Linked DNA regions of Homo sapiens. Changing the gene in region 3 together with the main gene of any one other region gives a genetic interaction. Each region holds a gene or a part of one and is shown on either strand. Other genes may lie near its edges.

Region 1 (4,079 bases), on a different chromosome or scaffold from region 3:
TTCCTGGATAGAGGCAGAACAGGTAGGGACAGGGCGAGGTTGAGGAGCAGGAGCTCCCTTAGCCTGTTCTGTTCTGAGGCCCTACATAACTGAGACGAGGTCTACAAGTGACTAAGATCTTGCGTGAGTTGGGTTCTCCGGTCCAGGAGTTGAAGAATATCTCTGCGATCACAGACGATGAGCATCTGATGAAGTGTTGTGATGGTCTCTCCTCAGAAAAATGCACACAGTAAATCTTTCATACAGGTAGTCCAAAAACTCACCATTCTGGCATTAAACGGACCTCAGGATAAAGTACTACAAAACCTGCAACTGATTTTCAGCTAAAAAATAAAACGTATATAGAGACAGACCTATAGAAAGATAAAAAACTAATATAGCAAACACTAACAATCACTGACCTGGGGTGTAAGTATAGAGGTGCTCACTGCACTATGCTAGAAGTCAGCAAAACTTATTCTATACATTGCCAGACAGTAATTATTTTCAGCTTTGCAAACCTAACTACTGAACTCTGCTTGCGTGGCACTGAAAACAACCATAGAACCAGAACTAGAGAAGCAAACAGGCATAGCTGTGTTCCAATAACTTTACTTGCAAAAGCAGACAGTGGGCTGAATTGGACCCATGGACTGTAGTCTGCTGACCCTTGTGTTAGTCTTCCAAAGTTATGCATGTCTGAAAACTTTCATAATAAAATACTGTGGGGAGGCCAGGCGCAGTGGCTCATGCCTGTAATCCCAGCACCTTGGGAGGCCGAGGCAGGCGGATCATGAGGTTAGGAGATCGAGACCATCCTGGCTAACACGGTGAAACCCCGTCTCTACCATAAATACAAAAAGAAATTAGCCGGGCGTGGTGGCGGGCGCCTATAGTCCCAGCTACTCGGGAGGCTGAGGCAGGAGAATGGCGTGAACCTGGGAGGTGGAGCTTGCAGTGAGCCGAGATGGTGCCACTGCACTCCAGCCTGGGTGACAGAGTGAGACTCTGTCTCAAATAAATAAATAAATAAAATAAAATAACATAAAATACTGTGGGGAGTATTGACCTAGTTGCCTATTTCTTTCCTCTTTGTTTTCTCCAAGTTGATCTGTGTGTTCTTCTCTCAGCCTGAGCTATGGGGAAATATACACATGGGCTAGGGCCATACTAGGTGAGCAACAGCCCTGAGGACAATGAGATGGTACAGGGAATAATTACAATTAATAATCATAATCATAAATGCCAGAACAATAGCAACAAACATTTATTGTTTGCTACGTGCTTGGCAGCAATCCAAGTGATTGACATGGATGATTAACACACTGAATCCTCATAACTGCTCTGAGGTATGTATTGTTAGCAGCGTCCCCACTTCACTGATGCACAGAGGCGAGTGAGGACACTGATGCACAGAGGTGAGGCTGTCACTTACTGGAAAGCAATGAAGCCAGGCAGCCTGACTCAATTTCAATATCATACTGTCATTTAGGCAAAAATGTTTGTATCATGAAGCTTCCATAAAAACCAAAGAGGAAAGGATTCAGAGAGCTTCCTGATAGCAGAACATGCACATTCTTGGAGGGTGGCATCCCCAGGGATGGCACGAAAGCTCCCCGCCCCTTCCTCCATAGCTCACCCTATGCACCTCTTCATCTGTATCCTTTGGAATATCCTTTATAATAAACCGGTAAACCTAAGTGTTTCCTGGAGTTCTGTGAGCCGCTCCAGCAAATTAATCAAACCCAAAGAGGGGGTCGTGGGAACCCCAACTTGAAGCTGGGGATGCCCAAGAGGTGGGCCCATGACAATCAGGCTGCTTTCCCATCCAGAGAGCTCCCTTCCTTCCACTGCTGTTCTTTGGGATTCTGCTTTTGGTTTCATTAAAAGTGTTTCTTCAGGCAGACAGCATCATCAATGCTTGAGAAAGATGGCCTAGGGTGGTACTACAGAGCTGCACTGTCCAGGTTCAAGGCTAAACTGCTTACATATTAGCTGTGGAATCTTGGGCAATCCTTGTACCTTTCTGAGCCTCAATTTTCTCATCTGTGAAGTGGGGATGATGAGAATACCTACCCTCAGAGGGTTGTCTTGAGTACAAAATGACATTCTACAGGGACACCCTAGCACCAGGGGAAGATTAATAATGGCAGCCGTGGCAACCACGCCTCACTGACAGCATCCTGATTTTGTTCAGATTATTAAGAAGGACATCGTGGCAGCTGGTCCACTGATGTTTCTTTTCCCTTTTTTCACCATGACAGAATAATAACAGTAAATATTTCCTTAGTCTCTACTATGCCCCAGGCTTTAATGTTTTAATTCATTTGACCCTCACAATCCCATGAGGGAAATACAGAATCCCCCGTCTTGAGGCAGAGAACACAAAGGCACAGGGAGCTTAACTGCATACAGCTTACTGGTAGTAAAGCCAGGATTTGAATCCCAGCCACCAGGTTCTTAACCAGTACTATGGATTCATATTTGCTCTGTTTTTTCTTTTTTGTTGTGCTTGTTGTTGTTTTGAGGCAGGGTCTCACTCTGTTACCCAGGCTGGAGTGCAGTGGCACAATCGTAGCTCACTGTAGCCTTGACCTCCCGGGCTCAAGTGATTCTCCCGCCTCAGCTACCCAAGTAGACGGGTCTACAGGCAGGTGTCACCAAGCCCAGCTAGTTTTTTAACTTTTTGTAGGGATGAGGCCTCACTATGTTGCCCAAGCTGCCCTCAAACTCCTGAGCTCAAGCAATCCTCCCACCTCGACCTCCCAAAATGCTAGGATTATAGGCATGAGCCACTGCACCCGGCTTTTTTTGGTTTTTCTCTTGTAGAGGGGTGGGGTGGTGCCATGAATCCCCTTAGCAGGTCTAATAATGAACGCAATTTTGAAAGAGGTGAACATAAACAACACTAGAAGATATGTATAATAGCAGAAATGACATGTGAACACAACTCCTGATTTCCACTGGTAAGTCACAGGTTTTGCTAACGCTACCTATGATATACTATAGTGATATTATAATCTATAACAGAAGGGAAGTTAAATGTAAGTTAAAGGTTAATGAAAATAAAGATGTTATTTTTGCCATCCAAATTCATGGACCTGCCTGGGAATTGCAGATGATCCCCAAGTTAGGAGCTCCTGCATGGGGCTATACTGCTGTTCATAATCCTTGGTTTTCAGCTGTACACATGACCCCTGGAAAAGACATTTCTGAATTGCCTTTGCATCTGAATGTGACTATAAAACTAACATCTGGCCAATAAAATCCAAGTGGAAATGTTTTGTGCAACTTATAGGGATGGGGGTCACACTTATCTTCCCTCCTTCCTGTCTGGAATGGAGCTATAATGGTTGGGGCTTCGGCAGCCAACTTGGGGACCTGAGGTAACCTGGGGGACACGGAGGGTAGAATGGAGGATACAACCAGCGCATAATGGTAAGAGCCTGGGACCCTGACACCATGAAGTGCCACAGCAGCCTGGATTGCCACCAGACATTTTGGTCATCAGTCAGATAGAAACTTCAAGCTCATTTAAGCCCCTGTTATTTAGAGTTTTTCTACTACTTACAGCCAAACTTAACTTCAACTAACTCTGCATATGACCTAGTTCTTGGCAAAGAGATATACAAGCAAGTCTGCTGAGGAGATTCAGGAGAGATTTTCCTCCTTCATAAAAGGGAGGAGGGAAAGAACCTCTGTGTCCTAAGCTGGCCTCTGCTAAACTGCACTAAAAAGTGCAGTTCCACTAGGACAGCAGATGCTGCTGGAATCTTATAACCAAAACAGGCCAGTCAAAAAAACCGCATTTCTGTGATATCTTTGAGCTGACCCAATTCTGTGATAGCTTTGAGCTGCTGAACTTGCTATATGAGAAATAAAGAGAACTCTTACTTGTTTAAACAACTCTAGGTTGGGGTCTCCGTCACATTCCTGATAGAAAATCTATTAATATCATTTCAGAAACCTTGACTGGCCATTGATCATGTCATATCCTGAGAATTCCCTGTGCACTGACTATCTCCCAAGTGTGTCCCCACCAAGCACCTGCTACAGTTGTGATACTGTGAGATACAGATTTGGGCTTCATCCCCATTTCC
Region 2 (4,079 bases), on a different chromosome or scaffold from region 3:
AATATTTATCTGAGATTTCTGCAAATCTTTCCTAAATTGCTAGTCAGTATCTAACACACAGCATGCTAGATTTGCAACCAGACCTTTAAATATAACAAATGATACTGTCCTTATTTTTTTTAAAGAGTAGAATGAATTGGCCGGGCGTGGTGGCTCACACCTGTAATCCCAGCACTTTGGGAGGCCGAGGTTCGCGGATCAGCTGAGGTCCAGAACTTGAGACCGGCCTGACCAACATGGAGAAACCCTGTCACTACTAAAAATACAAAATCAGCCGGGTGTGGTGGCGCATGCCTGTAATCCCAGCTACTCGAAAGGCTGAGGCAGGAGAATCGCTTGAACCCAGGAGGCGGAGGTTGCGGTGAGCCAAGTTTGCGCCATTGCACTCCAGCCAAGAGCAACAAGAGCGAAACTCCGTCTCAAAAAAAAAAAAAAAAAAAAAAATTGTCTGAAAACGTGTTTGTGCTTGGGTGGAATTAGGAAACCTTGATTATGTCTCACAATGTCTTCAAATATGTGATGAACACTCAAAAGAAAATGGGGAAATGAAGAACGACAATTTCATGAAATTAGATTACTCCAAACTTTCCCATCTAAAGACCCCTTTCAACACTGTTAAGACACTGATATAGTAAATGATCTTTGTCAATGGACACAGCCTTGTGGTTAGTCTAACTGACCTCAAAGTCCCTATAAGCACTATGTCTTATACACAGTAGATATTCAATAGCACCATCATAGAATGAATGAATGTTAAGGCTTCTATGCCAAAAATACTGTCGAAGGAGATGGGGAGAGAGAAAAATCAGTGAGAAGCCTATATTTGTGCTACTCAAAAGTGTCACCTATGGGCCAGTGCCAGTCCACAACTATAACTGATCCACAACAAGAAGCTTACATCAGAATGTAAATCAGCTCTATCACTAAGCAAACTGCAGTTCAGCTGATGTTTTGGGGAAGACTTTCTTGATGAAAGAAGCGTTGAGCAGACAGATTCTGGAGTAAGCTTCCTATCTCCTTATGGACCTATAAAAATAGTTTGCAGACCAGCCACTTTGAATAACGTGAGTAGAGTACGAGTCAAAGAGGAAAGAAAAAGGAATTTGTGGTTATATATGCAGAAAAAGGTTGAAACGGGGAAGTTTTAATACTGTTTAGGTAAATAAGGATTAAACACAAAAGGAAGGAAAAACGTGAGATGATGTCCTTGCAAAAAACATTTGTGAAGTATTGACAAAGAAGTTTCCCTTCATAATTTTGTTGCACACGCACCTCTGGCCCTTAATCATCAATATACTCAAATGGTTCTGGGGGTTCTGGCTCTTGTTCCTCCTCCTCGATTTTTGGGCCATGTGCTGCCACAGGTTCCACCAGCTCCTCAATGTCTTCACTGGTATCCTTCAGAATGATGATGCCTCCAATAGAGAGCTGGAAACACAGGGGCGTGCAGAAGCGTACACTCATATTTCAAGCGTGCTCCACAATCTAGAGTAAATACTTGTTAAATGGTACTTTAAAACTACTTAAATGATTTGGAAGTGAAAAACTGGAGTAGAACTTTACTGGGATAAAGATAACTGTGATCTATACGAAGTATTTGCAAACTTAACCCAGTAGCTCTAGATGGTATAACATGTGATGCTGTTCTACTTGGATGATGCATCCCAATTTAAGAATAGTTATTTCCCAGCCATGGCCTTGACTACCAGCCTCAGTCTCACTGCAGGAAGAATGTTTACTGTCCAAATATAGTATCCTAATTCCTTCCTACTCAAGATATGGTCCTGGGCCAGAAGCATCATTATCATCTGGAGCTTGTTAAAAATGCAGAAAAGCTGGCCCCACCCTAGATCTGCAGAATCTGCATTCTAACAAGATCCCAGTCAATCTGATGCACACTGAAGTTTGAGAAGCAGTCTAATGCACACTGTATGATTTGTGAGATGATAATCATTTTGAACACGAGAGTGTATAAATTAAAAGCCAATTTTTTCTCCAGCAATTTCAGAATGATGGAGAGAATAACACAGATATCCCGGGTTTTTCACTTTAATCTATAAATCCACGTGATGCAAGCCGATGAAAAAATACATGGGAAACAAAAGGGAAGTAGACTGTAGCAGCAATTCTATTAAGCCCTCTCCCAAACATATTACAGAAGGTAAATTCAAACACTAAACTATTCACCCCTCTCTAGTGTGCTAATCTTATTCTATTTGCTTGCCTGTGTCAAAGGAAATGGAAAGCTGCTCTATGTAATTAAATCAGTCAACAGTGGCAGGGCACATCTGGAAAAAGCATATTTCTACCAAAGCACATTACTGGGAAGGAAAAGAAGCACAAGTACATTAGTTAAATGATTCACGTATGTATAAGCATCTCTGCAGTTCAACCTAATCCAATTTTTACTCATCAGAACTCTGCCCTGCCATGCTATAAAACTGGTGTGCTTCGTGAACTCCGAACTATTTCCCTTCTCCTGACACACACATATCTATACATTTTTCTACAACCCCTTCCCTTAAAAAGTTTGCTTTCCTTGAAGAGGATCCATTTTATGAATGGACCCTGCCCTTACTGCCAATACTCCCAGAATGGAGCATAGGGCCACTGTCCTAATCCTCCATAGCCTAAAAGTTTACTTGAACCTAATGGACCAAATGGAGATGAATCTCCTACCAAACAGAAGAAAATATCCACGTTCACATGAGGACTTTCTATTTTTTGGAAAATGTGGATCCAGGTTATGCTATTTCATGCTTAACTGGAATGAAATAATCCAACTTAATCAAAGGAAGGCCTCATCATACAAAAACAACAGTAACACACACACAAAAAAAAATCCCAAAACTAATAATCCAAATCAACACATGGAAAGGGCTGTTTATAGCTATACATGGTCTAGGTTTGTTAATGCTTTACATGTTGGTGGGAAAGTTCACACCCTCTATGCATAAGATATACGATTTTCTGTTCTCTGGGGAGGCTAATTACAACTGTAGATATAGGCAATGAAACACTTCCTCTTGCCTCATGGTGGACAGGAAGCAGGGTAGGAATGTTACTTGTTTCCAAAACTACAGCTGCCTCTTTCAAATGCAGTGTCTGAGGAAGGGTCCCATGACCTTGCCACTGAGGGTAGGGGAGTGAGTCACTGCACATACACAGAGGCAGTGTTTTCTTTTTTAAAATGAGATATATTAACATAAAATTCATTCTCTCAAAGCGTACAATTTAGTACATTCACAAACTTGTGCAGCTATTAATACTTCTGCTATCTAATTCAAAAATATCTGCATCAACCTAAAGAAACTGTGGGCCCAGTAGCAGCCACTCTCCATTCTCCCCTTCCCCTGTCCTTGGTAGCCACCAATCTAACTCGTCTCTATAGATTTGCCTTTTCTGAATGTTTCACATAAAGGGAACCAGACCATATGCAGTCTTTTACGTCTGGCTTCTTTTACTTAAAATAATGTTTTCAAGGTTCACACACACTGTAGCATATATCAGTAAGTCTTTCCTTTTTATGGTCAAATAATATTCCATTATTATCTCACATTATTCATTCATCAGTTGATAAGACATTTAAGTTGTTTCCGTTTTATGGCTATTATGAATCATGCTGATATGAGCGTTAGTGTGTAAGCTTTTGTGTGGGCACAGTTTTCTCTTCTCTTAGGTATGGAATGGAATTGCCGGGTCATATGATAAGACTACATTTAACTTTTTGAGGAACTGCCAAATTCTTTTTTTCCACTGTGGCTGTAACTTTACTTTCCCACTATTACTCTATGAGGGTTCCAATTTCTGCATATTCTTGTCTGTGCGGTCTTTTTGATTACAGCCATCCTGGTGGGTAGAATGTGATATCTTCTTATGGTTTTGTGTTTCTTTTTAAATTAAGAGATGGGATCTTGCTATGTTGCCTAAGCTGGTGTCCAGTGGCTGTTCATAGGCACAATCATATTGCACTACAGCCTCGAGCTACTGGGCTCAAGCAATCCTCCTGCCTTGGCCTCCCATGTAGCTGGGACTGTAAGTGGGAACCACTGCACCTGTTATGGTTTTGATTTGCATTT
Region 3 (4,420 bases):
CTCAGAGAGCCTGAGAAGGTCCTGTTCTTCACCAGGGTCTGGACCAAGGATTCTGTCAAGGCTGGACCAGAGTTTCGTTCATCAGTGTCAATGGCACTGAACCCTGTTTCAGGCCCATCAGTGTTTCCATAAGTCCTGTTTGGACGGGGTCGGGTGGAGTACTCCATTGGTCTCAAGGCCTGGTGCTCATGTGGCAGGTGGCCAGGAGGCTCTGCTTCAGGCTGGGATAAAAGTTGCAGCAAGGCGGCTGTCACGGCTGGGTTCAACTCCTGGGGGGCGCTGGAAAGATCGCCTTCAACCAGAGGGGGTGGAGGTGGCGGCGGTGGAGGTCCGGGGGGCTCAGGGGGCCTCTTCTCTGGTGGAAGAATGTGAGGAGGACATGCTGTGGAAGGGTTACTTCTTTTAAACACCATCTTAAAAAGCACATGTGATTATAAACACAAACACACACACTGTGCAACATAAACAAATATCAATATAAGTAACCAGATATATAAAGAATAAAATCTTGGGATCAGAAAATTGCAATTATAAATAAATCAAGTGATTAAAAGTAAAACAGTTGCATCCTGGATCTAACAGCTAGTGTAAAAATATCATATGTTTCAAATGATTATCCTGATTTTGGTCTAAGATTTCCTCCATTTCCTTCCTTTAAAGAACTGTTCTAACATGCAGGCTGTTGGCAGACTCCCTGCCCCTTTTTGCTGTTAGATGGAAACATTAAAACAAAGCAGAAGGAAGGAAGATGAGAGGGAACAATATACATGCTGTGGTCACATTTCTAGGACATAATCTTGCTCTACAACAGAGACCTTGCATGGACTTGGCTAACACATTTTACAGAATGTTTGATGACATAGGTTAACCTGAAATAAAACTTAAAGAATATATAGGAGAGATAAAATAAAGTAAAAAGTTTTCATTACTGTCATGTATAAAAATACACTTGCTTCTCCAAACTTTAGTCACGTCTCCCCAAAATCATAGTCTGAAAGGATTGTAACTACCATATTATCATTCAGCTTCCTATGTTACAGTAATTTTAAAGACTAATTTCTATCATAATTTTCTATTTTGTTTTCCTAACTACTGCATTTTTTTCCATGCTATGAAAAAAAAATCACTATAGCAGTGTCATGCAGAATGAACTGTTGATAAACATCTGTTTATCTTGGAGACGGTGACAAGAACTAAATATTTAGAAATATATTAAATTCATACTATACTCTGTCTTTACAAAGATCTTTTGTCTTTCTTGAACTACTTCCACCAGACTTTCTTTTTTCCACTGCTGCCTAAATGTGCTTAAGCATGATAAACATTGTCTGATAATGAACTCCTGCCAAGGCAGGAGAGGAGAGATGTAAAATGGTATGAGTTTGAGGACAAAGAAAACCACTGAGACAGAAGTATGGTAGAACAATGCCTTTAGAAAATTGAGAGTCATCCTGCTGAAGAAAAGATTTAATGTTTTGGGATATCTTCCAAATGACCGATTTTTCTTTTCCCTATGGAAGCATATTTTAAAATATATATATAGTCATTCTTCAATTATCTAAGCTGTGATGTAAAGTCATTACTCAAAACAAGCCAAAAACAGTTTTTAGTTATAATTAGATATTTTTGTAGCATATTTACCTTAATTATATTTTGCAAAGACAATCAGTAATTAAGTTTGTATTCCCTTAGCATGCAGATGAAAGCACTCTGAAAACACTACAAAATTGTAAGGTTGTACAGTACAAAAGATGGTCAGGTGTTACATGTAACATCCAAGCAGGGTGACCAACAGTCCCAGTTTGTCTGGGACTGAGGGGGTTTTCCAGGTTGTCAATGTTCAGCTTTAAAACCGGGACAGTTCAGGAATGAATTGGTGACCCTATGTATAGTACCCACCCAAGTTATTTGTTGACTGATTGGCTGGTTGACAGGGTGGCAGGGGAAAATGAATTTAAGGACAAAAAATTAGCCATGGAAAATTTTGAACATGGAGAGTAGACATGCTGAAAAAGGAGGGCAAACTGGACTACAAGTAATGATAGATTTCAGAGCCTTTTGCTTTCAACACTCTCTATATAAGGACATCACTGTACCAGTTATTTAAAAAGTATTTCTGGACTACACATAAAATGGAACACGAGGATTTTTAATACCGAGGTCAAATAACTTAAAAATGTGTAACTGTAAAAGTGAGATAATCTAAACTTACATTCTTCCAGCTATGCCATTTTTTTGTATTCAAACTGTGCCTTTTATGTAAATAGCCTAATTATGTTTCAACAGAACTAACACTTGAGGTCAAATTCTTTCATATGTGTAAAATAAAAATTCTATTCCAAAGTAGCAAAGGCTGGGCATGGTGGCTCATGCCTGTAATCCCAGTACTTTGGGAGAACAAGGAAGGCAGATCACTTGAGGTCAGGAGTTAGAGACCAGCCTGGCCAACAAGGTGAAACCCCGTCTCTACTAAAAATACAAAAAAATTAGCCGGGCCTGGTGTCACACACCTGTAATCCCAGCTACTAGGAGGCTGAGGCAGGAGAATCGCTTGAACCTGGGAGGTAGGGTTTGCAATGAGCTGAGATCACGCCACTGCACTCCAGCCTGGGTGACAGAGCGAGACTCCATCTCAAAAACAAACAAACAAAAAAACTTATTAAAGTAAGCCTAATACTTCTTAAAGGAATTAAAAATATGAATTATAAATCATATTGTTATGATCTAAAGTATCAATGTTGTCAATCCTTAAAAGTATGGACTTTTGGCTGGGTGTGGTGGTTCACACCTGTAATCCCAGCACTTTGGGAGGCTAAGGCGGGTGGATCACCAGAGGTCGGCAGTTCAAGACCAGCCTGGCCAACACAGTGAAACCCCATCTCTACTAAAAATACAAAAAAAAATTAGCCAGGTGTGGTGGCAGGTGCCTGTAATCCCAGCTACTTGGGAGGCTGAGGCAGGAGAATTGCTTGAACCCAGGAGGCAGAGGCTGCAGTGCACCAAGATCGCGCCATTGCATTCCAGCCTGGGTGACAGAGAGAGACTCTGTCTCAAAACAAACAAAAAAAAAGTACGGACTTTCAGGATTGACAACAATAAGGATGTATTATTGAAATGTAAAAATAAATTTAAAACTTCAGGCCGGGGGTAGTGGCTCAAGCCTGTAATCCCAGCACTATGGGAGGCTGAGGCGGGCAGATCACCTGAGGCTGGGAGTTCGAGACCAGCCTGGCTAACATGGTGAAACCTCGTTTCCACTAAAAATACAAAATTAGCTGGACATGGAGGTGCATGCCTATAATCCCAGCTACTCAGGAGGCTGAGGCAGGAGAATCGCTTGAACCCAGGAGACGGAAGTTGCAGTGAGCCAAGATCATGCCATTGCACTCCAGCCTGGGCAATGGAGTAAGACTCCGCCTCCAAAAACAAACAAATAAACAAACAAAACCCTTCATTTTACTCATTTGATTTCAACTTATCACCCTTCCCAGTAAGTACAGAATAGTAAAACAGCAGCCCAATTAATAGGCTGTCACCTTCTCTGGTTTATACAGTCTGCCCTCTGGTGGAAGTGCTAATTAACAGTGAAATGGCCAAATAGAGATAGCAGGGGAGAAACAAGAACAAGTGAGCCACTGTAGAGGCATCAGCTGAATAATCCAGGGGTGACTGCAATAATTAGTTACGGCATCTCTACACTTTCCTCTGAAAAGTAAATCCAACAACTTCTGGCCATAGGCCAGGCCTTAAAACATATACTTTCTGCACCACCTCATATGAAATGTGAATGTAGGACCCTAAAGTTGAAGATTAGTATATCTCTTCAGCCCTCGAGCCTCTTCTTATTCCCCAATTCATGGGGTCTTCATGGACAGTGAGAATTTCCGAGGAGTTAAAAACATTTTTACATAAGTAAAGATTTTGCAAATACAGTGTGAATCAGAATTAAAGAACTTAAACTGCTTTTCCCTCTAATAAATTGCACGCTATGGTCATGTGAGATTAACGTATAACTTATCCCCATTTTCCTTTTTTTTCTTTATAATACACGCACTTCCTGATCTGGGGTCCATTCAATTGCTTCTATCAGAAACAGATTTAAAGGAATTGTTCTTATACACTATTATTTTTGGGAAAAGAAATGTATAGTGTTAATTATCTACTTAGAAATATTCCCAAATTATTCTTCAGGAAATTAACAATGATATTTTATTAGGGTTTTCTTGATTGTATCTTCCAGGAAAGACTGGCATTCAGCATCCACTCCACTAGAGGTAAAGAAGTATAGTCTGATAATGGTTTGTTTGGAAGTCAGATTTCCAAGTGCTAGGACTAGTTGGCCACCACACACAGTTCAAGATGTGTGGTTCAAGATGCATCACTAGCTATGGTTGTGGTTTCCTTGGTTAGAACACAGGGG
Region 4 (2,792 bases), 3.3 Mb from region 3:
CCATCTCTCCCTGTCCTCCTTCACTCCTGCCTCCACTCCTGGCCATATTATGAATTACTATGCCATTGAAGGCCCCCTGCTCCTTACTGAAGGCTTTCTTCCTGTTCTTTAGAGCCTAATTTCTCTCCAGCTCATTGATTCCTCCCCATCCATTGTTCCACTGACCTACGGCAGAACTTGGGCTTGGGGCAGAACAGAAGGTAGCAGAAGCTTCCATGATGCTGGAGCTCCCAGAACATATTCTGGTCTTTTTCTGGTCAGAAGCTGAGTGGCATCCAGAATGTTTCCTGCACTTTACCTCCTGCCCTGGCCTGGGCTTCTGGCAAGCAGAAGTCACCCCTCCTCACTGCTTCTCATTGCCCCTCATTGAGAGAGAGAGAAGACAGGAGAGAGGGAAAGGGTGGGGTGTGTGTGTGTCAGGGAATTAACCGAGGTTTAACATTTCCTCAAAGATGTACAAGCATGAGAAGGCAAAAGGAGTTACTAGAGGCCACACCTGCTTCTCTGGATCTCAAGAACTGGAGAAAATTTCATCCCTGGTCCCATTCCTTAACCCACTTTACCCTACCCCCAACCTGTTCCCCACCAAAAAAAAAAGTGTCAGTAAAAAAAAAAAGTCAATTCCTGTTTGGGCCCATTTATTGTTTATTTTGAATAGGTAATACAGTCACATGGTTCAAAATTCAAAATGTACAAAAGGGTGTAAGTGTTAAGACCCTTCCCTCTCCTGTCCTCAACCTACTGGTTCCCCTCCCAAAAGTAATCAGTGTTACCCATTTATTCTGAATAGGCATACATAAGCAATTATGTGTTTATATTCTACTCCTTTCTGAAACACAAATGGGAAGTGCGCTATACACATTTCTGTGGCTTGCCTTTTTCACCTGAAGATTATTACATATTAGTATATAAAGACATACAATTATTTTTTAGCTGCATACTATTGTATTGTAAGGCTGTATCAGAATTGATTTAACCAGTCCTTTAGAGAAAAAAGTTTCTGTTGTTTCTCATCTCTTGCTATTTCTTTGTCCCCATCCCCAATCCAGACCTCAGGAGGGACAGCAGTGATGGGAATGGAGCCCAAGCCTGGACCAGGCCAGGCCCTGCCCCACCCAGGCCAGGCCCCTCCCCACTAGGCCAGACCCCCACCTCACCCAGGGCCCAGCTCATTCGCATGCCTGAATGTGATTGGACAGCCCCTCCTGGCTGGGTGGCTGGAGTTGTAGGGGCTTTGGCTTCTCATCTTTGATGCCCACCCTTTGTTTCCACTCCAGCCTCCCAAACAGGCTGTTGCAGAATACAGAGCCCTGGTACAAAATGGCCATTCTTCATTATCATTGCACCCCCAAATCACTTGAAATGCTAACTTGAGCTGCTGCTGTCACGATGACCATCCTCCTCTATAGAGAGCATGAGGCAGGCAGACACAAATGCACAGAAGCAGCTGTCCTGAAACACACCCAGCCCCAGGACAGGGGTAGGAGCAACTCCTACTCCCAATAAGCAACAGACACAAGGGAACGACACACAGGGATTGGCCACTCTGATTAGGGGTCCCGTGACCTTGAGACTTCCATAGGGCTGGAGAGGAGACGGAACTTGACTGAAAACTGAGGGCTGGGGGAGTACCAGGGGCTGGGACATAGGGATATCCCCTCAGGATTCGGGAGAAATTGCAGGATAGAAGAGAAGGCAGGAACAGGAGGAGGAGGAGGAAGTAGGTGAGAGAGAGGAAGACGAGAAGGAAAGGACCTGGATGAGAGGGAATGTGAGCAGAAGCATCCTTTCCAGCTCAGCTATGGACTTGCAGGACTGGCAACCCTACTCTGGGGTCTCCAGGGAATAGCCCCCTTTTAGAGTCCTTGGAGGTGGCCTAAAAAGATTCGGGAAAGCCAGACAGCAACAAAGGGAACCATCTAGGGAAGCCCTCGGCCACGGCTCCAGGCTGGGCCATGCCTGGCCTCTGTGGATGAGAACTCAGTACAGCTGGCATCAACAAGGTTCAGTGTCCCCTGTGTCAGGCATCACAGGGTCAGGAGGCTCCTGGCTCAGAGGCGGATGCGAGGGAGGGTAGTGGAAGAAAGAGAGTCCTGGCACAGGAAAGAGGGAACCAGGCTGCCGGCCCAGTGCCCAGCTGCTCCCCATCCCTCACACCCTGGCCCTGGAGCCCTTGGCCACATGCCCCATCCCAGGACCGCCTAGTTGTGAGAGAAGCCCCCGTGGGAGAAGGCAGGGAGGTCGGGGGCACAGGCAGCAGCCTGGGGCAGGCAAGCTAGGGGGTTGACCTCGCAGGCCCCAGCATCCTGGTCCCCTCGGAAGTAGATGGAGTCGGCAGAGTAGAAGGAGGGGTCTTCGTCAAAGAAGTTATAGGGTCGGAGGAAGAAGCCCACGCCGTTCCCCACAGTCACTGTGTTAGGAATGTCCTCTGCATGTGGGATATGCAGAAAACCAGCTGTCACCCAGGCCACCAAATCCTAGCAGGGGAGAAGAAAGAGGATCACGAGGTCTGGCTTTGCTGAGGACATGCCCTGGTAGGGATTCAGCTCACCAGCCCAAGGATCATGAGTCTTTAAACATTTTTTCCTGCTGGGTAGGAGTCAAAGCATAAGTAGTCCATTTCATATTAGGAACACCTGCTTCCCTGTCCCTGGCTTGCAGCCTCCATCTCTGACATTTCCCATCATATCGCCCATTGCCTATCTACCCCCAGAGGGTGACACCCACAGGCTACTTCAGCTCCTCTTCCCCTAACTCTCCAAGAGTTCCCCACAACTGAGGAAAGAAGGGTG

The links. A genetic interaction does not mean that the proteins touch.
Region 1: changes in CDK12 (region 3) and PPP2R1A together harm fitness more than expected from each alone (negative genetic interaction), as found in Homo sapiens cells (one large-scale study listed by BioGRID).
Region 2: changes in CDK12 (region 3) and PSMD1 together harm fitness more than expected from each alone (negative genetic interaction), as found in Homo sapiens cells (one large-scale study listed by BioGRID).
Region 4: changes in CDK12 (region 3) and AOC3 together harm fitness more than expected from each alone (negative genetic interaction), as found in Homo sapiens cells (one large-scale study listed by BioGRID).

The regions. Positions count from the first base shown.
Region 1 is NC_000019.10:52,196,100-52,200,178, reverse strand, and holds part of PPP2R1A (serine/threonine-protein phosphatase 2A 65 kDa regulatory subunit A alpha isoform), read right to left. Parts: intron 1-4,079. UniProt on the Homo sapiens protein: The PR65 subunit of protein phosphatase 2A serves as a scaffolding molecule to coordinate the assembly of the catalytic subunit and a variable regulatory B subunit.
Region 2 is NC_000002.12:231,167,915-231,171,993, reverse strand, and holds part of PSMD1 (26S proteasome non-ATPase regulatory subunit 1), read right to left. Parts: intron 1,429-4,079; coding exon 1,282-1,428; 3' UTR 1,273-1,281; intron 1-1,272. UniProt on the Homo sapiens protein: Component of the 26S proteasome, a multiprotein complex involved in the ATP-dependent degradation of ubiquitinated proteins.
Region 3 is NC_000017.11:39,526,566-39,530,985, reverse strand, and holds part of CDK12 (cyclin-dependent kinase 12), read right to left. Parts: intron 383-4,420; coding exon 1-382. UniProt on the Homo sapiens protein: Cyclin-dependent kinase that phosphorylates the C-terminal domain (CTD) of the large subunit of RNA polymerase II (POLR2A), thereby acting as a key regulator of transcription elongation.
Region 4 is NC_000017.11:42,855,960-42,858,751, reverse strand, and holds the end of AOC3 (amine oxidase [copper-containing] 3), read right to left. Parts: intron 2,478-2,792; coding exon 2,202-2,477; 3' UTR 628-2,201; downstream 1-627. UniProt on the Homo sapiens protein: Catalyzes the oxidative deamination of primary amines to the corresponding aldehydes with the concomitant production of hydrogen peroxide and ammonia. Has a preference for the primary monoamines methylamine and benzylamine.